4 linked regions of the Homo sapiens genome follow. The protein of the gene in region 2 purifies or fractionates together with the protein of the main gene of each other region. This does not show direct contact. Each region holds a gene or a part of one and is shown on either strand. Other genes may lie near its edges.

Evidence for each region.
Region 1: the proteins of PAGE1 (region 2) and AMPD2 purify together in Homo sapiens (co-immunoprecipitation; 2 studies listed by BioGRID and IntAct, with this or other methods). This does not show direct contact.
Region 3: the proteins of PAGE1 (region 2) and ABHD10 purify together in Homo sapiens (co-immunoprecipitation; 2 studies listed by BioGRID and IntAct, with this or other methods). This does not show direct contact.
Region 4: the proteins of PAGE1 (region 2) and UTP4 purify together in Homo sapiens (co-immunoprecipitation; 2 studies listed by BioGRID and IntAct, with this or other methods). This does not show direct contact.

Annotation. Positions count from the first base shown.
Region 1 is NC_000001.11:109,629,837-109,632,597, forward strand, and holds the end of AMPD2 (AMP deaminase 2), read left to right. Parts: coding exon 1-80; intron 81-396; coding exon 397-570; intron 571-846; coding exon 847-957; intron 958-1,106; coding exon 1,107-1,316; 3' UTR 1,317-2,215; downstream 2,216-2,761. UniProt on the Homo sapiens protein: AMP deaminase plays a critical role in energy metabolism. Catalyzes the deamination of AMP to IMP and plays an important role in the purine nucleotide cycle.
Region 2 is NC_000023.11:49,692,963-49,699,897, forward strand, and holds the start of PAGE1 (P antigen family member 1), read right to left. Parts: upstream 3,023-6,935; 5' UTR 2,907-3,022; exon of another isoform or gene 2,897-2,906; intron 1,817-2,896; 5' UTR 1,809-1,816; coding exon 1,746-1,808; intron 1,240-1,745; coding exon 1,137-1,239; intron 1-1,136.
Region 3 is NC_000003.12:111,988,980-111,993,868, reverse strand, and holds the end of ABHD10 (palmitoyl-protein thioesterase ABHD10, mitochondrial isoform 1 precursor), read right to left. Parts: intron 3,170-4,889; coding exon of another isoform or gene 3,128-3,169; exon of another isoform or gene 3,118-3,127; intron 2,493-3,117; coding exon 2,148-2,492; 3' UTR 501-2,147; downstream 1-500. UniProt on the Homo sapiens protein: Acts as an acyl-protein thioesterase that hydrolyzes fatty acids from acylated residues in proteins.
Region 4 is NC_000016.10:69,149,605-69,156,650, forward strand, and holds part of UTP4 (U3 small nucleolar RNA-associated protein 4 homolog), read left to right. Parts: intron 1-932; coding exon 933-1,104; intron 1,105-1,208; coding exon 1,209-1,300; intron 1,301-3,979; coding exon 3,980-4,076; intron 4,077-4,788; coding exon 4,789-4,853; intron 4,854-6,266; coding exon 6,267-6,389; intron 6,390-7,046. UniProt on the Homo sapiens protein: Ribosome biogenesis factor. Involved in nucleolar processing of pre-18S ribosomal RNA. Part of the small subunit (SSU) processome, first precursor of the small eukaryotic ribosomal subunit.

The sequences.
Region 1 (2,761 bases), on a different chromosome or scaffold from region 2:
GGGAGGCTGGGCCCATCCACCACCTGGTGTCAGCCTTCATGCTGGCTGAGAACATTTCCCACGGGCTCCTTCTGCGCAAGGTCAGGATCTGCACCCCTAGCCTTCCCTCCCAATTGTTCACCTTCCTCTGAACCATTCGGGCCCCTTCAGCAACCGATCCTCCTCCCACCCAGCCCTCAGATTGGATTCTGCCTTCCCAATGTAACTACCCTTCCCCACCCCAGCCTTCAGCCTGGGGCCCCAACTTGGATTTTGACTAATTCACCCTTTGCACATCAGGCCAAGCCTGGATTCCCCTCCCCCTGCCCTCTGCTGTGGCCTGGACCCCCAGAACCACTGTGCCCTGCCCAGCCTCGGGGCCACCTGACAGGCCCTCCCTCCCTGTTGCCTGCCCAGGCCCCCGTCCTGCAGTACCTGTACTACCTGGCCCAGATCGGCATCGCCATGTCTCCGCTCAGCAACAACAGCCTCTTCCTCAGCTATCACCGGAATCCGCTACCGGAGTACCTGTCCCGCGGCCTCATGGTCTCCCTGTCCACTGATGATCCCTTGCAGTTCCACTTCACCAAGGTCAGAGCCCAGCAGGCAGCCAGGCGGGCGGGCGTCCCAGGACGCTGGGGTCTCCCGGGTTGGGTGGGGGGCGGTGGGGGGGGCGGTCTCTCGGGTTGGTGCTGCCCCCTGCTGGTAGAGCATAGCTGGCCAATTGACAAGTCTTATGGAGTTGAGGGGTTGGGGGGTTGGGGGGATGGGGGGGCGGGGGTGGGGAGAGTGAGTGAGGAGGCTGGGGAAGGGAGGCAGGGGCAGCTGGCCAGGGCGCACTCGTCTGAGGGAACCTGGCCCGTGCAGGAGCCGCTGATGGAGGAGTACAGCATCGCCACCCAGGTGTGGAAGCTCAGCTCCTGCGATATGTGTGAGCTGGCCCGCAACAGCGTGCTCATGAGCGGCTTCTCGCACAAGGTACTACAGCGCCTGCCTGGACCTTGGCATGGCATCACTCCTCCCCTCCTCTGCATTTGGGGTCCTGACCTGTCCCTGGGATGGCTTGGGGTGGGGCATGACCCCTCAGCACTGGCTGCAGCCCTGCCCATTACCCCCGCTCCTTGCAGGTAAAGAGCCACTGGCTGGGACCCAACTATACCAAGGAAGGCCCTGAGGGGAATGACATCCGCCGGACCAATGTGCCAGACATCCGCGTGGGCTACCGCTACGAGACCCTGTGCCAGGAGCTGGCGCTCATCACGCAGGCAGTCCAGAGTGAGATGCTGGAGACCATTCCAGAGGAGGCGGGTATCACCATGAGCCCAGGGCCTCAATGAGCCTGGTCCATGAAGTGCCCACCACATCGCAGCACTTTTACCACGTTTTGTCCTCAGACCCCGCCCATGCTGTGTGGTCTCTGCATGTCTCCATTCTTCTCTGTCTCTGTCTTGCATGTCTCCTACCATGTCACTGTCCCTGGGCCACCCAGTGAAAGCAAAGCCTGGGAATCTGCTCATTGTTGTTTGGGCTCAGGTATTGAGCCTGATGGCCCAGGTATTGAGGGCCTCCCCTGCTGGTGGCCCTGTCCTGGGATCCTCAGAAGCCTGACTGTCCTATGGGCTTCTCCAGTGTCCACAGGGGCTTGGGATGGTTGTGGGGGGCTGGCCCCTCTAGCCTTTCCGGTCCTTCCTGGGCAAATCTAAGCCTTGGCCAGGGCCGAAGTTTAGGCCCCTGTCTTGTTCATGTAGCCGAGGGGCAGGCGGGGGACCTCTACACCTCTGCTGTGGGCACGGGGCTGCTGAGGGTCTGTGGAACTCCAGCAGCTCTGCACTGGGTAGAGCTGGGCCTAGAGCTCAGTCACAGGCCTGGGCTTCCTGGCCTGAGTGGGTAGACGCAGGCGGCAGAGGTGCTGGACCACATCTCCGCCAAGTCACTGCCCAGCAGCCTTCTCCGTCCTGTCCCCAGCCCACGTGCTCCTTGGGTGTCAGCTTCCTGTGCCTCTGTGGGAGAGGGCAGCTGCCTTGTGTTATGTCTGGGGCCACAGTTGCTGCAAAGTCCTGGATCTGCCACTCAACCCCGGGAGTGGTGTTCCCAGTGTGGCTCCCAGAGCTTTGACCAGATTGTGATCCCAGCTGGCCCCTATGTTGTGTTCTGGACTGAGGCCTTTGCTGTGAACTGCAGTGTTTCATACGAACCATCTTTCCTAGTGCATGAGAAATAAAGATTATTTAAGTAATGAGGCAGGTGGGGTTTCTGTTGGGAGAGGGAACGCCGTGGTGGGAGGTGGCTGTGGATGGAGGCACCGTGCATTCTGAGGGGAGGGACTAGGCTTGGGTGATGTGTATGTTGTGCATGTGGAAACTGACAAAAGAAGCTGTGGGAGAGAGGAGATGCCCATCCAACCCTCATCCAGCCTGTTCCCTGTGAGGGGAACACCTAGCCCCGGGTCTGTGACACATCCCTGTCACACCAGCTTGGGGGCTGGTGTCTGTTTCCCACCTTGTACTTCCTCCCCTCTTCCAGCCTCTGAGGGGATGGCCTGGTAGATGGGAAATATGCACCTACAGACAAACCTGAGACCAGGGTCTTCTGGGGGGGTCTTGTTTAGATGGCCCTCTCCAGGCCATACTCTCAGAGATTCTGATTCAATAGGCAGAAGGTGTGGCACAGACATCTGCAAACTCTCGGGCAGATTCTATTGCAAGAGGTTGGAACAAGCCTGTGCATTCCGATTCCAGCCCCCCGCCCCCGCCCCAATCCCATCTCAGCCTCTGTCCCATGT
Region 2 (6,935 bases):
GACATGTATAATACTTATATTCGGCCATAGAGTACCAACAGCAGTGTGCATCAGCTGAGAAATCTGAAGTCTACATCATGGATAGGATTTCAGTTACAATTACAGTGTCAGTTTCTGAAGGATTGAGCAGCTGGATGGATTTGAGGACTATGGAAAATCTTACAGTCACGACACCCATTGTCTACTGGGGTAAACAGAAACTTAACTTTGTTCAAATAAAGTTATATTTAGGTCCAAAGGTCCTAAATGTAATATTCCATAAATGAACCCCATGTAGAACAAAGCACCAAAAATAACACTATTTGTGAATTACAGCAAATATACTGTCTCACGCTGAGAACAAAGGAATGAGTGGACAGCAATTAATGGGCATTGTTGTCAGTCTTATTCTAGATACCTTTAACAGTGAATCCTTAGAATAATCCATGACCTGAGTTAGATAATTGTTTTGCTTCAAAATATTTTATCTCGGAGAAATTATTTCCATCTCATGTTAATCTCAGGATAATTCCTTTTTTTTGGTTTTTCTAACCATAAAAGGATTTAATCACCTCCTAAAAGCCACTTAAAAAATCATACTACACCAGCTACCTGTATGGCAGTATCCTGAATTCTCCAGCTTTCAACAAACTTACCACATAAAAATATCAAAGGAAATGGTGGCCAGCAATCAGGAACTCAGTTTTTGGAGTTGCTCCTGCTCCTCTGAACTGGGTCTATTCCTGGGCCAGTACTAAGCTACATTACAGTAAAGCATTTGAGTTTTAAGCACTTTCAGCAAAATCATTTACTATTGTTACAGCAACATAGATGGTAGGAAGACACAAACTTTGGAACAAAACACAAATTTTGTATTCACCAGTCAAGTGTTCTTGGACAAAACACAATCCCCGGGCCTCCATTCTCTCATTCATAAAGTGGAGAAATTTTATCATAGTGAGGGATTTATTTCCCTAAGGTAAGCTGCAAACTATACCCTCTTCACTTTTCCAGTCAATTTCTAGGCATCGTTTGCATGGCTTTCATTCCTCCTGTTCCTGGTATGTGACAATGCATGAGACACACACACACACACACACACACACACACACACACACACACACCCCAACAGGCATTCTTCTTCCCTTTCCCTTCACCTTGAGCTGCAGATGCTCCCTCATCCTCTCTCTCTTCAGCAGGTGTAGAATCCTGACTTTGAGTTGGTGATTCCACTTCGTCAGGTTGCTCATCACTGGACTCCTTGTGGTAGGGAATATGTGTGTGAGTGTGCAAAGACAAAAAGTTTTGTTATTAATACATGTCAAAAAATATATACGTATACACACAGAGAATGCATAGATGTTTCTGATCATAACTAAACCTAAAAATATTTCTCCAACTTTATTCTATATGGTTAATAAGGCTACTCTACCCACAGAAAGGTTACTGCGAGAAAAGTTACCCACAAGGACTTTGGAAGCTATTGCACTCTATGTTGGAATAGATGTGTATAATCTATGTGTCATTCACAAGCAAAGCATGAGAAAGAAGTCATGGCCAAAAGTTGGAGAACACAAGAGAAAAAAAAAATCCTCCTGAATCAATATTTCCTTCATGAGATACCAGAATCTTATTTTTTTAATCAGCATGAACTACCTTTATTAGTGTATCTATACTAATGCAACAACACTATCACAAAAATTAATTTCTGCTAATAGAAAACATCGAATTAACGTTAAAGCACTCAACAGCATAGGCCCAATTACCTCAGAAGATTCTACATAGATCATTGGTCTACGCCGATAGATTAATCTTCTTAGAAAACCCATATTTCACACTGAAAAGAGAAAATTGTGATTGGGAACATGCACTTGAGAGGACAGCTATATTCGATCACTTCCATGGCTAAATGTTAACTTGTCATTTTAATTTTGAAAATACTCTCAAAATAAGTCCCAGAGTTAAGTGCAAGTGTGTACGTTTTCTGAGTGCTTGCAAAGCCACTTATGCTCCCCAAGCTGGCAGAGTAGTCATCTTAAGGCATGTGGCAAAAGGCAGAGGACATTATTTTAAAATTTCTTTTAGACACAGAATCTCGCTCTGTTGCTCACGCTGGAATGCAGTGGCGTGATCACACTTCACTGCAGCCTCGACCTCCCGCTCACGCGATCCTCCTGCCTCGTCCGGAGTAGCTGGGACTACAGGCGCGCACCACTGCGCCCCTCTGACAGAGGACGTTTCTGATGAGGTTTAGTTTCACAAGCGGACTCCACATGAAAACACTAGTGAATCACAATTCCCGTGACTGCTGCTTTTGGCACACTCCCACTTACTAGAGCCATTCACCCCCCTCAAATCAAGTTTGGTTGGGCCACACAGCCTCTCCCAGTCCTTCCCATTGTTTCCGGACCTTCTATGGCAGAGGTGAGACCTTGCCACGCTTCTCACTCGGGTGTTTCTCACTCGGGCACTCCCCACTCCACACCGCTGGGGGGCGCTCACCAGCCCACAGCCTTCCCAGGTTCCAGGCCCCTTCTTTACCGCCATCTTCACCACCCACCTCCCGCCTCGGGGCCCCATTCAGGACTCAGGAATGTGCCCTGTGTCATGGGTTCCTACCACCTCGGGACTTTGACCCCTCCAACAGCACCCGCAGCACTCGCCTCATTTTCACCTGAGCCCCTGACCGCTTCCCCTTCATGGCCCACTTTCCTCCCTGTCCTGGCCCCTTCACGACCACAAAGCCGATGGCGGCGTCGCAGCCTGTGAGGAGAAGGAGGACGAGCTCGAGGCCCTTCTCTTTTGGAGGCCACTGAGGCCCTTCTCCCTCAAAAGCCACACACCACCAGACCGAGGGGCCCACCGAACCTGCCCGAAGCCCACTGGCTCCGCCTGAAGCCCACTGGCTCCTCCTCACCCTCACTCACACTTCAGCCCCTGGGAGGACTGGCCTGCGGATCTACCAGATGAGTCTCAGTAGAGGAAAAAAGTGTCCGGACAGCAGGAACGCGACTGCACACTCTCACAGCTCCCTGGCGTTCTCCACGTGGGCGAAGGGGCCGACGGGAAGGCACCCAGTGAACATGCGCACTGAGGCTAGCACCCAAAGGTGGGGAGGGCTGCAGTTCCCAGCCCCACACCCCACACTCCCGATTTTCATCCCCGTGAAGATAATGGAATCCGACCTCCCTCTGCTGTTTCATATGCCTCGGGTACTCAAATACCTCAAATAGTGCTCCCCTCAAAACTCATTCCATCTTCAACTGAGCCCCCCTCCCCTCCAGGGCCCTCTCTTGCTCTGGCCCTGCCATAGGGACAAGGACCATGGTGGCTGCCTGTGAAGTGAGGTAGACGACCTGCTAAAACAGAAATAGCAACATACCTCATAGCATTATACAAGACTAAGAGTCTCATAACTAAATATTAAAAATGTCTAGCATATAATTCAAAATTACTCAGAATATGAAGAACCAGGAACATAGGGCCACTGAAATAGGGAAAGACAATCAGCAGACATCACTGCTAAGATAGAGATGTTGGGATTATGTGGGAAAGCCTTTAAAGATGCTATTTTATAAACGCTTAGGCTGGGCGCGGTTGCTCATGCCTGTAATCCCAGCACTTTGGGAGGCCGAGGCGGGTGGATCTCTTGAGGTCAGGAGTTCGAGACCAGCCTGACCAACATGGTGAAACCTCGTCTTTACTAAAAATGCAAAAAATTAGCTGGGCATGGTGGCGCGCACCTGTAGTCTTAGCTACTCGGGAGTCTGAAACAGGAGAATTGCTTGAACCCAGGAGGCAGAGGTTGCAGTGAACCGAGATCACGCGACTGCACTCTGGCCTGGACAACAGTGAGACTCCGTCTAAAAAAAAAATGCTTAAACAAGCAATCATGAACACTGTTGAAACAAGTAAAAACAAAGTCCTGGCACACACACAAAAAAAGAATATTTAAAGAAGAAGCAAATGGAAATTTTAGAAGTGGAAAATATGATAACGAAGGAAAATAATTCTCCCCAAATGGATTCAATAGCAGAATGGAGACAAGAAAAGAGTTTGTGAACTCAAAGATAGAGAAATAGAAATTGTTCTGTGTGGCCAAGAGCAGTGACTTACACCAATAATCCTAGCACTTTTGCGTGCTGAAGTAAGAAGATAGATGGCTTGAGGCTAGGAGTTTCCAACCTGGGCAACATAGTGAGACCTTGTCTCTACAAAAAAACAATTAAAAATAGCTGAGTGTGATGACACATGCCTGTAGTCCTAGCTACTGTGAAGGCTGAGGCAAGAGGATCCCTTGGGCCCAGGAGTTCAAGGCTGCAGTGAGCTATGATCACACACTGCAGTCCAGCCTGGGCAACAGAGTGAGACCCTGTGTCTAAAACAAAACAAAAAGAAATTGTTGAAGTGTCTCATAACCTGATATTCAAAATGTCCAGCATATAATTCAAAATTACTCAGAATACGAAGAAGCATGAAAGTTAGGCATCTTGGCCAGGTGCAGTGGCTCATACCTGTAATCCCAGCATTTTGGGAGGCTGAGGCAGGTAGATCACGAGGTCAGGAGTTCAAGACCAGCCTGGCCAAGATGGTGAAACCCCATGTCTACCAAAAATACAAAAATTAGCTGGGTATGGTGGCGGGCACCTGTAATCCCAGCTACTCGGGAGGCTGAGGCAGAGAATTCCTTGAACCCGGGAGGCAGAGTTTGCAGTGAGCCAAGATCGTGCCACTGCACTCCAGCCTGGGTGACAGAGTGAGGCTCCATTTCAAAAAAAAAAAAGGAAGTTATGGAATTTCAAATGGAGAAAGACAGACAACTGACACCAATGCAAAGACAGAGATGTTGAGATTATCTGGGAAAGCCTTTAAAGATGCTAGTTTAAAAAAGCTATAAACATCCATGTCCAGACACAAGTTTTCAACTCCTTTGGGTAGATACCAAGAAGTACAACTACTGGACTGAATAGTAAGAGTTTGTTTAGTTTTGTAAGAAATACTGCCAAACTGCCTTTCAAATTGGCTTTACCATTTTACATTCCCACCAACAACGAATGAGAGTTCCTGTTGCTCCACGTCCTCCCCAGAATTTGTTGTTGTCAGTGATCTGGATTTTGATCATTCTAATAGCTGTGTTTTTGGTGCAGTTTTCATCAACCCTGGCTGCCCATTGGAATTGCCTGGTAGAACATTTTAAAAATGTTGATTTTCGGCTGGGCACAGTGGTTCACACTTGTTATCCCTGCACTTTGGGTGGCCGAGGTAGGTAGATCACCTGAGGTTAGGAGTTCAAGACCATCCTGGCCAACATGGTGAAACCCCATCTCTACAAAAAGACAAAAATTAGGCTGGGCGTGGTGGCTCATGCTTGTAATCCCAGAACTTTGGGAGGCTGAGGCGGGCAGATCACCAGGTTAGGAGATCGAGATGATCCTGGCTAACACGGTGAAACTCCATCTCTGCTAAAAATACAAAAAATTAGCCAGACGTGGTGGCAGGCGCCTGTAGTCCCAGCTACTTGGGAGGCTGAGGCAGGAGAATGGCATGAACCCGGGAGGTGGACCTTGCAGTGAGCCGAGATTGCGCCAGTGCACTCCAGCCTGGGCGACAGAGCAAGACTCCATCTCAAAAAAACAAAACAAAACAAAAATTAGCTGGACATGATGGCAGATGCCTGTAGTCCCAGCTACTCGGGAGGTTGAGGCAGGAGAATTGCTTGAACCTGGGAGGCAGAGGTTGCAGTGAGCCGAGATCGTGCCATTGCACTCCACCCTTGGTGACAGAGTGAGACTCCGTCTCAAAAACAAACAAACAAACAAAAAAACCACAAAGATATCGATTATCAGCCTCCACCCCAGGACAATTAAGCTGGGTCTGGGGCTTAGTCATTTATTCATGAGCATTTAAAAAGTATTTCTCAGGTTATTTAAATGCGTATCTGGTGTTGAGGATGGCTAGTTTAGAACATATATTACCAATAGGCCTTTGACGAAGTGTTCAGAGCAGTGAGAAAGGTAAGATGTAAAGCTTTTACCATCTTAAAGTCAACCAGCTTATTGGAGATGGCTTGATCAGACACTTTTGGAAGACCCTGCTTGAGATAAATCAAATATAAGCAAAGTAGTAGTAGATGTTGAAGCAGAGACAGCTAAAGGGACATTAGAGCTGCAATTTAGGGCCTTTCAGGGTTCCCCCAGATGATTAAAACTAACCAGAGGCCATAACAATCATCTTTTCTAAGACTATAGAGAGAATAAAAGCAGAAGGAAAGGGAGAAAAAAACCATAACTATTTTTTAAACCTTTCCTAAACCCTTAGCATATTTTGTAGTCCTTACTCTATCACCTGAACTAGTCTATTTTATAAAGCGGCCTGGATAACCTTTAAAGTCCTCTATGTGGGTCTCTATCAGCATTTGCCAGTCATAACTAATGGACTGAGATAGAAGACACAGAAGCTGTGCCTGTAGAAGAACATAAGACAATGACAAGAGACCAAAAGCAGGTCCATTTTGTACAGCTGCCTGGGGGTGTACATTTAGGAGGACTGCAAAAGTTAGAAGACATACCTTACTTATTAAAAGTGGTAACTAGAAAATGTGCCCCTAAGGAAAATCAGTATTTTTTTAAAGTATACCATTCAGTATTTTTAGTATATTCACAAAAGTTGTGCAACCATCAGTACTAATTCCAGAACATTTTCATCACCCCTAAAAGAAACTCTATTTTCTGTCTTTATGGATTTTCCTATTCTGGACATTTCATGTAAATGGAATTATACAATATGTAGCCTTTTGTGTCTGGCTTCTTTCACTTTGTGTAATGTTTTCAAGGTTCAACCACATTGTACCATGTATTAGTATTTCATTTTTTATTATTGCTGAATAATATTCTATTATATTGATGTACCACATTTTGTTTACCAATTCATCAGCTGATGGACATTTAGGGTCTTTC
Region 3 (4,889 bases), on a different chromosome or scaffold from region 2:
TACACCGCATTATCTAGGTTTATGTTATTTTACAGAAGAGACTGAGACTCAGTGAGGTTAACTGCTCAGTCACAGAGCTAGTAAATGGTGAGCCAAAATTAAAAACCAAGCTTGTCTCTGACCTTAACCATTATGCTATACTGTCTCTACATATGTATTATAAATCTCAAATCATATTTATTATTTTGCGCAGAAAACCATCATTGGCAAGGGCCCTTGCCTTCATGTTCCTAACAAGCCTCACACCTAGCAATGTCTAGGCAAAGTAAGTCCTTGAATAGCCAGTGCCATCTTCTATCAACCCACTCCAGCACCAGAGACTGTGGCACTCATAGATGATTTATCTTTGCTGTTTGTAATTTTTGTCCAGTATAAAAGATAACCCATGGATTGTAGTTTAATTGCCCCGTAGGACATAAACCAGTTTTGTATCTGTGGAGAGGCCCTCACCACCACCCCCAAATTTGAAGATTTGCTAGGAAGACTCATAAGACTCCACATACAGTTCTGCTCACGGCCATGATTTATTACAGTGAAAGGATACAAAACAAAATCAGCAAAGGAAAAAAGACACATGGGGTGAAGTCAGGGGAAACTAAGTGCAAGCTTCCAAGAATCCTCCGCCAGTGGAATCACAGAGGATGAGCTTAATTCTCCCAGCAACCAGTTGTAACAGCACTTGTGAAACACTGTCAACCAGAAAAGCTTGTTAGAGACTGAGTGCCTGGGGTTTTTACTGGGAGCTGGTCACAAAGGTAGTCTCTGCCTGGCACATACCAAAATTCCAGACTCCCAGAAGGAAAGCAGGTGTTCAGGAGAAACTATATTGTTTTACAGTTTAGATATAGTAAGCTACTTTGATCAGTTCTGGGAATGGTGGAAGCCCCCTGAACTCCAAGTTCCCAGATGCCAATCAAGGGCCAACCTTGTAAAGCAGGTCTCTAAGGTTAAGTAGTCAGGTCGGCTTCATTAACACTTTTTTCTGCACAGCAATTTTATCTCAACATTTTTTCTTCAATGCCCATAAATACTCAGTTTCTTGAATTGTACTTTGAACCAGGTTTACTATCTGCTGGTTTCCTCATTAATGAGTCGAATAAGTCTTCGACACATGCTCATCTTATACACATGTATATATATGAGTCATGTTGTCAACTTAAAAGGTTTGACAGATAATAACCTAATCAAGCTAAATAAAGTCCAGCCAAAATTAATTAATAAAAAACATTAACTAAATAATATCAAGGCTCAATCTACACCTCACTTTAGTTATTTAGGAAAGAAAAAAAATAACCTTTATACTAGCATTTCACACTTTCTTACTGACTTTAGAACGTCTTCTGATTTAGGTGGCAATCACTTGCCTAGTTGTACTTAGGGCAATATTAATAAAATAATGAATGTTTCTGCAAGAAATAATATATAAAGATTAATTTCCTCTTTAATTTTACCAATCAGAATATTAAAAATACTACATCATTGTTTTAGATGAAATTCCCCATTTAAATATATTATACATAAGCCAAATTTTAGAAATAGCTCCTTGTATCACTGTACAATTTTGGGCCTTTAAAAAAAAAGCTCAATTTTAAGTTTGAATATAATGTGCAGTTTATATAACATATATATTATATTATATATACTTTATACATTATATAAAGTATTATCCTTATTGTGAACTTTATTATGCTTCTGAAATTTCTCCATCATTTCAAATTTACTTCAATAAAAATTTCCCTATATTTTGTGAATTGCATTTTCAAATCAGAAGTAATGTTACAAATTTCTGTCTATAATAAAAAACAAAATATTCACGCTTTATTAATAATCCTAATTAGAAAAGGATGCAATTAAGAGCTGGCATAGCTAACATAAGCATAAGAAAGGTAAACTTTTCTTGAATTAAAAAAAGGAAATACTTTAATGAAAAAAAATCAAGGACAGAAGGAAGGAGAAAATTTTCTAAACAGCAGCTGGTCCTTCTTCACAATTTGCATTACTTATGCAAATACATCATTAAATAATACTCATCTTATATTTACAAAATAGAGGAAAGGGAAAAACCTAAAGTATCAGGATCTTTCATTTCTTATCCCTCTTCCAATCTTCTGGATACATTAGTTTACATACCAACTAAACATGTGATACTAGTTAACTATAGTTGAGAGCTTATCAATTAAGTCATCAATAGTGTAAACAAGAAGTTGAATGTCTGCTTTTTCCCTCATTCGGTGATCACTGTGTTTTCGGAGGATGACATCCACATCTGTGCTGAGTACTCGATCGGCAACCTGCATTGATGTATGCCAAGGTACAATGTCATCCTTCATGCCATGGAGCAATCTTATGGGGCAGTTCACAGGAATTGGGCTATGTAACAAGCAGTGATGTTCAGCTTCTTTAATGAAACTGTACTGAACGTTATAAACTCCTTCTTCAGAGTATTTTGATGGCATGCTCCACACACCTTTCATCTCTACTTCCTTTTTTAGCTATTGGAAAAAGAAAGAAAAATAAAAGTATTTGTGACTTTAGGCAACATTAACACATGCAATAGTTTTAAGTAATCTAATGAAAGCAGTTCTTGAATAAGAGGATAGAGATAACAAAAGTATAACAATAATAATTATCAATAATTACTACATGCAAGGTACTGTGATGGGTATTTTATACATATTATTCCATAAGATTCTGATAATAATTCTGTTATTATTCTATTTTTATAAAAGAGGATATTATGGTTTAGATAAATGAAATACTGTGTGCAACAGTTCAGGGCTAGGCTACTAACTGTTATGGCTAAGACTCAAACTTAAATTTAAATTTATTTAATTTTATCATACACTATCTCAAATCAGATGTTGCTTCACCCCAACTGAAAAGAAAAATGAAGAGGGAGAAAAGCACTACAATTTCTTGGAATCAGTCCAGGTATCATTCATATTTAAATAAAATCAAATCTTAGAATAAACATTGTTTAGATTTCAAAATTGTAAACCTAAAAGTGCTTATAAGTAGCTAAAATGGATATGGCATAGGGAAAGAAGAGAAAGAATCAAACACAGAACTAAGAATAAAAAAATAAGAGTAATTACATTGTAACAATCATACACATACTCATGCAATTTTAGGCTGAATGTAAAGAAATATAGTTTTTCCTTCCAGAGTCCTATAAAAGAGAAAAAATTTGATTTTTGTTCTGGATGACAAAGAAGTCTTCCACATACTTCCTGAAAGCCAAACAATAATATCTGTATATTTATTCCCTTAAAATGAAATATACATGTCCTTTGACTTTTTGAGAACTCTTATTTTTTATATAATTTATCTTAATTTTTCTAAAAAAATTAGAATTTTGTATAATGAGTAACATGCAGTCATTATAGAAAACATAAAAATAATTAAAGAAATAAATCACCCATAATCCTATCTTATGGAGAGAAAAACCATTAATATATGGCTTATTTCCTTCCAATATTTGTCTATATGTGTTTTGGTTTTTGTGTAATATGTAAAATACATACATATTACACATTCATATACAGTTTTCTATGCTGTTTATTTAGTACATATATTTCTGGGTTTAAAAAATTCTATGAAAAGGTTTTAAATGCTGCACAGCAGTCCACCATAATTGACTTAATTAGTTTGACCATCTCATACTGTGGTATTGTCATGAACACTTTTGAGCATAAAAGTTTATTTATATATAATAGATTATTGGAAAGATGATCACAGCTTAAAACTAAAACAAAAATCAAGCTATGAATAGTTTCAAGACTGTTACAATCATATAATATTAAGGGCATTTCTAGAAAAATGGAATGGACATCTTATCAAAAATTTTAAAAAATAAGGAAAGAAAAGCTACACATATTTGAAAAATTTAAAGTTTCAACAAATATACTATGATTTTCCCATGTTTAAAATTGTTAATTTATTGCAAATGTAAAAAGGAAAACAAGAACTTAAAAAATATGTATGACATAATATAATCTATATGTACTTAGGCTTTAATGTATTTTTAATTCCAAAAAGACTTAATAATTCAGTAAAAAAAAAACTGTACTTCTAAATATGTCTCCAAATGATTTAAAATTAATGAAATTCTACAAAACTATAAAATGTATATAAATCTATATCAATATCATGGCATTCTCTGTATTAAAACAACATATGAACCAAATATTTAAAGTAAAGATGACATTTAGCTATCCTCAAGCTACTCAGGATTGTTTCTGAATTTGTAAATACTTCAGCAGATAGAACTTAGTCCCACTGGTTATTAGCTGAAGTGGAGGCTTTGCTAATTAAGGCGACACTGAATTAATAATAGTTTCATTTTAAGCATCCCTGGCCCCCAACTAGCTCTGCTACCTGCCACTGAATTGAATGAAAATGGTCCATCTGAAGAACAAAGTTAACTTTATAAAATGTTGTATGTCTCAAGTCCTCAAGAACAAAAAGTTCAGAAACAGCAAAGACATTACCCAAAGAAAATGTACAATATATTAAGTTCTACATCAACAAAACTTATCAAGGCAATGTGGTTCAGAAGCTTACATTCCCAACAGCTGTGCATCATGTCTGAGGCCCTCTAGTGTCCAAAGAAGGTGATAATGATTAGAGTCAGTTAAAGAGGATGGTCAAGTTCTTAGAGAAGAAATGAGAAATGCTGGGCTTACTATTCCCAGGGTTATAAAAGATAGTAAAAATCTCCACATCTGCTCCGTTGACATTGTTAGGGCTAGCTGTTTATGTGGAGAAGAGATAGCGGTCTTAGTGTTGGTGCTCTTTCCTTATACATGCTTTTAAGTTAACCAAGGGCTCAACATGCTTCTGTTAACAACTGCTTATCTGAGTAAGTATTAGCAAAAAATGCCTTGATT
Region 4 (7,046 bases), on a different chromosome or scaffold from region 2:
CTGGTCTCCAACTTCTGGGCTCAAGTGATCCTCCTACCCAGTCTCCTGAGTAGCTGGGACTACAGGTTTGTGCTGCTCTGCCCACCTTGTTTATTTAAGAAACTTTTTTATTGGTGTTTCTTGCATTTTTTTTTCTTTTTTTAAGCCAGAGTCTCGCCCTGTTGCCCAGGCTGGAGTGCAGTGGTGCGATCTTGGCGTACTGCAACCTCTGCCTCCCAGGTTCAAGTGATTCTCGTGCCTCAGCCGTCCAAATAGTTGGGATTACAGGCATGCGCCACCACGCCCAGCTAATTTTTGTATTTTTAGTAGCGACGGGGTTCACCATGTTGGCCAGGCTGGTCTCAAACTCCTGGCCTCAAGTGATCCACCCAGCTCAGCTTCTCAAAGTGCTGGGATTATAGGAGTGAGCCACCATGCCTGGCTGATGTTTCTTGGATATTTTTAATGAAATAAACGTTATTAAGAAACACCTGTTCTAGTTCCAAATAAAGGATTTTCAGTATTTTTATTGGTTTAATACATTTCTTTAGTGATAATAACTTGATCATGTTAAATATTCGTATTAAATAACATGATATGAATTTCTTTGTTAGGTTTTCTCTTATGTTCTTTCGAAGGATTTAAATTTCTCAAGTAGGTCCTAGGTATTTTCTCTCTCTCAATGCTATTCTAAGGAGATCTATGTTGGGTATATGAAGCGTTGCTGTACTGTAGACGTTAATTTTGTCAGTAGGGGGCGCATTGTTACCAGTGTCTGAGCTTGCTCCTTTGATGGAATCCTTAGCTTCTGGAAGGAAAAGACCCTTGTAACTTTCCTACTGATTCTGGGCATAGGTTTACCCCTAAGCTGCTGAGACAGAAAGCCTCGGAATATTTTTCCAACCAGACCTTGTTTTGCTTACGTGTACCTCCCTCATGATTTAATTCCTCAGCAAGAAGACAGTTTCGTGGTGGGCACAGCCGAGGGAACAGTCTTCCATTTTCAGCTGGTCCCTGTGACATCTAACAGCAGTGAGAAGCAGTGGGTGCGGACAAAACCGTTCCAGCATCACACTCATGACGTGCGCACTGTGGCCCACAGCCCAACAGCGCTGATATCTGGAGGTGGGTTCCCCCTCTGGTGAGGCTGCTGCTTTACCCTGCCCAGTTCTGGCTGTTCTCGTGAGGATGACTTCTAATTCTGTACACCTTCTCCCCTGCTTTCCCAGGCACTGACACCCACTTAGTCTTTCGTCCTCTCATGGAGAAGGTGGAAGTAAAGAATTACGATGCCGCTCTCCGAAAAATCACCTTTCCCCACGTAAGTGTCCATTCCAAGCCCCTGCTAACCCCTCATCTCCCCATCCCTGTGTCCCCCTGTCCCACAAGCTCTGAACACAGCTCACGCTCGGCAAATTTGTAGGACTTTTTTTTTTTTTTTGAGACAGAGTTTGCTCTTGTTGCCCAGGCTGGAGTGCAATGGCGCGATCTCGGCTCACCACAACCTCCACCTCCCGGGTTCAAGCGATTCTCCTGCCTCAGCCTCCCGAGTAGCTGGGATTACAGGCATGCGCCACCGCGCTCAGCTAATTTTATATCTTTAGTAGAGACTGGGTTTTTCCATGTTGGTCAGGCTGATCTCGGAACTCCCAACCTCAGGTGATCTGCCCGCCTCAGCCTCCCAAAGTGCTGGTATTACAAGTGTGAGCCACCACGCTCAGCTTTGTGGTCCTTTTTTTTTCTTTTTTTTTTTTTTTGAGACTGAGTCTCTCTCTGTCGCCCAGGCTGGAGTGCAGTGGTGCGACTCCACTCACTGCAAGCTCCGCCTCCCAGGTTCATGCCATTCTCCTGCCTCAGCCTTCCGAGTGGCTGGGACTACAGGTGCCCACCACCACGCCCGGCTAATTTTTTTATTTTTAGTAGAGGTGGGGTTTCACTGTGTTAACCAGGATGGTCTTGATCTCCTGACTTCGTGATACGCCCGCCTCGGCCTCCCAAAGTGCTGGGCTTACAGGCGTGAGCCACTGTGCCCAGCCCCTGCCTTTTTTTTTTTTTTAACCATCTGGGACATGGAGATATTGTAGGACTTTCTGTAGCTACCTTCTTCATTCCTTCTGTTTTTGAGGCAAGCCACTGCAAAGACATTTATGGGGGCAGGAGATATGCAGCAGCACACCTAGTTCAGTTTCTGGGGAAATTTTTCCCTTTTCCAAATAGTTGTGGGTTATGGGAATTTTGTTAGTTTGTCTTTCAGGGTAGGCTCTATTCTGGGTGGGAGCGGGAAAACCCAGGCTTCCAGTGTTCTAGGTAAATGGTACCATCTTCCCAAGCTAGAAAACTTGCTCCCCACACCTGCTGCCCCATTCATTCAAGCAGTAAACCTCATTGAGTCTACTCATCAGTATCTTTATACATATGTTATAGATATAGATAGATAGATAGATAGATCAACAGCTCTATTGAGGCATACTTGATATATTAAAAATCATACATATTTAATGCATATGGTTTGATGAGGTTGAACATAGTCCTCATAATCTCTTGAATCGAGTCATTCATTTCTCTTTGTCTACGCTGGCATCATCCTAGTTTGGATCAGTGTCTTTTCTCATCTGGGTTCCTTTACAGTAGCTTCTTAATCATGTCCTTTTATTTGCATTTGTGTCATTCTAGCCTATTCTTCATTGATCTTATTTTATTTTATTTGTTTTTGTTTTTTTGAGACAAGGTCTTGCTCCGTCACCCAGGCTGCACTGCAGTGGTGTAATCTTGGCTCACTGTAACCTCTGCTTCTTGAGCTCAAGCAGTCCTCCCACATCAGCCTCCCGAGTTGCTGGAGCTGCAGGCATGCGCCACCAGGCTCAGCTAATTTCTGTTTTTCTTTTTTTTTTTTTTTTTTTTTTGAGACAGAGCTTTGCTCTTGTTGCCCAGGCTGGAGTGTAGTAGTGAAATCTCGGCTCACTGCAACCTCAGTCTCCTGGGTTCAAGCGATTCTCCTGCCTCAGCCTCCCTAGTAGCTGGGATTACAGGCACCCGCCACCACGCCTAGGTAATTTTTTTTGTATTTTTAGTAGAGACAGGGTTTCACCATGTTGGCCAGGCTGGTCTTGAACTCCTGACCTCAGGTGATCCACCTGCCTTGGCCTCCCAAAGTGCTGGGATTACAGGCATGAGCCACTGTGCCCGGCCTCGGCTAATTTTTTTATTTTTTATTTTTTTTAATAGAGGCAAGATCTCACTATCTTGCCCAGGCCAGTCTCAAACTCCTGGTCTCAAGCAATCCTCGCACCTCAGCCTCTCGATTGCTGGCATTACAGGCATGAGCCACTGCTCCAGGCCCATTGATCTGTTTTAAAGCACCTTTGTTCATCACTCCATGCTTCAAAGCCTCTGGTTATCCCTGTTGGCTTCAGCATAAAGACAGTTTCCTTAGTGTGTCTTATAGAACCTGTCTCCATCCAGGCCTGGCCCTTCAGCTTCTTTTTGCACCTCTCGTGCTTGTAGCACCCCCACCCAGGCTAGCCATTCTCAAGGTCTTTTTGTTCCCTCAAATACTCTTACCTTTGAGCTATGTCACATGCCATCACCCTCCTCAGAATGTTCTGCCCTGCCTCCTTCGCCTGACTGGTCTTTCCCAGTGAACCTCATCTGGGCTTCTGTATTTACCACCACACAGCTAGGTTAGATGTCCTGTCTCCTTATTTTTCAGTACATACTGTGTTTAGCCGTGTTAAAATTCTTGGCACACTGAAGTCTAATTGCTGATTTAATTCTGTGTCACCCCTTTAGAAGCATGTTGAGAGCAGTAGCTATGTTTTAATTCATCATCGTCTTCATAGATCTCAGGGCAGTGCCTGGCATATGGGAGTACTTAGGAAATATTTATCAAGGAAATGGATTTCAGCAGTAAAAAATGTGCTAAGGTGGTGCTACTGTATCTGGTACTAAGGCAGTAGATGACCCTGACTTATTTTTTTAACTTCTTGATTCTTGGATATAGCGATGTCTCATCTCCTGTTCTAAAAAGAGGCAGCTTCTCCTCTTCCAGTTTGCTCATCACTTAGAACTTTGGCGACTGGGATCCACAGTTGCAACAGGTAAGATGGGAGCACGTTTTTTTCAATAAGAAAACTGGAGAGAGAAGCCAGAAATCAGAATTGCGGTTGGAATTCTGCTTATAGAAAAACTGAAGTAGACTTTTGTGTCCATTTTAACTAATGGTTTTCCCACCCATTAGATAAAGCAAATAAGCTGTTTAGAGTATTAGAATCTTTAGCAGGATATTGGATCATCTCTTAAAAGTTTATGGCTCTAGGTGGTGCGCTGCAGGGTGTAGTCAAGGTAAGGGTTGAAGAATCGTAGTTTGCGCTAGCTTAACTGAGGTGAAAACAGGCTGTTGAAAAACAACAAGATTTAATGATGGGTAATGATAATCCTGTAGAAAAAGAAGATCACATGGATCTTATTGGAGTGACAGCCTAGTGGCCTTTTTGACTTATTAAGGAAATGTTTGAGTCCTCTCATTTGCAGTGGATTAAAATCGAGGCCACACAAACTCCACCTGTGTCCCTGGCTATGGACTAGAGCTTCAGGGAATTAGTGATGTATCAGAGGATAGAAGCAAAAGAAGTACTCACTGCTTTCTCTTCATATACCCCTCAAAAATTGTGAGCTTACTCAGTGAGCTTGTATTTTTCTGATTTCCCACTGATAGAGATTCCATTTTTCCAAGGAGTAACTTTTTAGAAGAAAAATGTACAAATACTCTTTCTTTCATAAGAAAAATCTCAGGGAAGTTTCTTGTTTCAGGCAAGAATGGGGATACTCTTCCACTCTCTAAAAATGCAGATCATTTACTGCACCTAAAGACAAAGGTAAGGAAGTTTGTTTAGGCTCTGAATTCTAGAGCCTGAATTCTAGGCTCATAATTCCCATTCTGAATTTTGAGGTTACTTAGTTTGCATCATAAATTGTATAAATTCTAAAACTATTTGAATGAAGGACTGTGTCACCAGGACTGGGTTTCCTGTGATTATAAGTAGGACGTTGAGGATTTATTAGATGGATGTATACAGGAAATAGGTTTCTCTTCTTTTGATATTATTATGAAAATAATGTGCTTTTATTTATTTATTTATTTATTTATTTATTTATTTATTTTTGAGACGGAGTTTCACTCTTGTTGCCCAAGCTGGAGTGCAATGGCACCACCTCAGCTCACCGAAACCTCCGCCTCCTGGGTTCAAGCGATTCTCCTGCTTTAGCCCCCCAAGTAGCTGGGATTACATGCATGCGCCACCACGCCCGGCTAATTTTTTGTATTTTTAGTAGAGATGGGGTTGGTCAGGCTGGTCTTGAACTCCCGACCTCAGGTGATCCGCCCGCCTTGGCCTCCCAAAGTGCTGGGATTATAGGCGTGAGCCACCGCGCCCAGCCATGTGCATATTTTTAAAAACTCAAATAGTACAAAAGGGTATACAATGAAAAAAAAATCATTTTGTGAGTTTTTAAAAACTACATACATGTTACATTCAACTTTTCTTTATTCTCCAGATTCTTTTTTGTTTGGTTAGTTGGTTGGTTTTTTTGTTTGTTTGCTTACTTTTTTGAGGCAGGGTCTCATTGTGTTATCCAGGCTGGAGAGCAGTGGCACGGTCACGGCTCACTGCAGCCTCAACCTCCCAGGCTCAGGTGATCCTACCACTTCACCCTCCCAGGTAGCTGGGACTACAGGTGTGCACCACCATGCCCGGCTAATTTTTTGTAGAGTCAGGGTTTCACCATGTTGTCCAGACAGGTCTTGAACTCCTGGGCTCAAGCAATCCTCCACCTCAGCCTCCCAAAGTGCTGGGATTACAGGCATGACCCACTGTACCTGGCCTTCAAATGTTCTTCATTTGCTATTTCTTAGAAGTCTTTAAAGCAGAACGCCGTACACAAAACAGAAAATAAGTACTTCAAACCACCTATCCTCCAGAGCTTTCCTTCAGTAAATGCCTCCCTGCTCAGGTTTCTGAAGTTGGGGTCTAGTATGAGGCTATCTATGAAGTATTCAAAGGGCCAAAATAAGAATAGACCTCCATTCTTGGATTTGGAAATCAAAGCCATGCCTTTTAGGTGCTCTGCCTCTGAAATAATCATATTAATGCAGACCACACGAGGATCGAGATTATGTGTAGATATCTGTGGGTATGTCCAGAGTGGCAAGAGCTTGAGGCGTCATGTCCCAGTGCACCTTGTTATGTGAAGTTTAATTGCACATTCATCTTGATTCCTGATATTGCCAGGGTCCTGAGAACATTATCTGTAGCTGTATCTCCCCATGTGGAAGTTGGATAGCCTATTCTACAGTTTCTCGGTTTTTTCTCTATCGGCTGAATTATGAACATGACAACATAAGCCTCAAAAGGGTAAGTGATAGTCCAATATCTGGTCACATAAGAGGAAACTTCCTAAATATGTCATTTTTGTGTGAAGTGGAAATCAACTGGATGTGAATCCTTGCTCAGTTAAAAACTATTTGGAGATTTGGAGAAGGCTGTTATGAAACAGTGTTTTATTTCTTTCTTTCTTTTTTTTTTTTTTTTTGAGACGGAGTTTTGCTCTTGTCACCCAGGCTGTAGTGCAATGGCACAGTCTTGGCCCACTGCAACCTCCGCCTCTTGGGTTCAAGCGATTCCTGTGCTTCAGTCTCCCGAGTACCTGGGATTACAAGCACCCACCACCACACCTGGCTGATTTTTGTATTTTTAGTAGAGATGGAGTTTCACCACCCGTTGGCCATGCTGGTCCTGAACTCCTGACCTCAAGTGATTCACCCGCCTCAGCCTCCCAAAGTGCTGGGTGCTGGCATTACAGGCGTGAGCCACCGCACCCAGCCTTTTTTTTTTTTTTGACCGAGTTTCACTCTTGTCACCCAGGCTGGAGTGCAATGGCACCACCTCAGCTCACCGCAATCTCTGCCTCTCGGGTTCAAGCCATTCTCCTGCCTCAGCCTCCCGAGTAGCTGGGATTACAGGTGCCCACCACCAGGCCTGGCTACTTTTTGTATTTTTAGTAGAGATGGG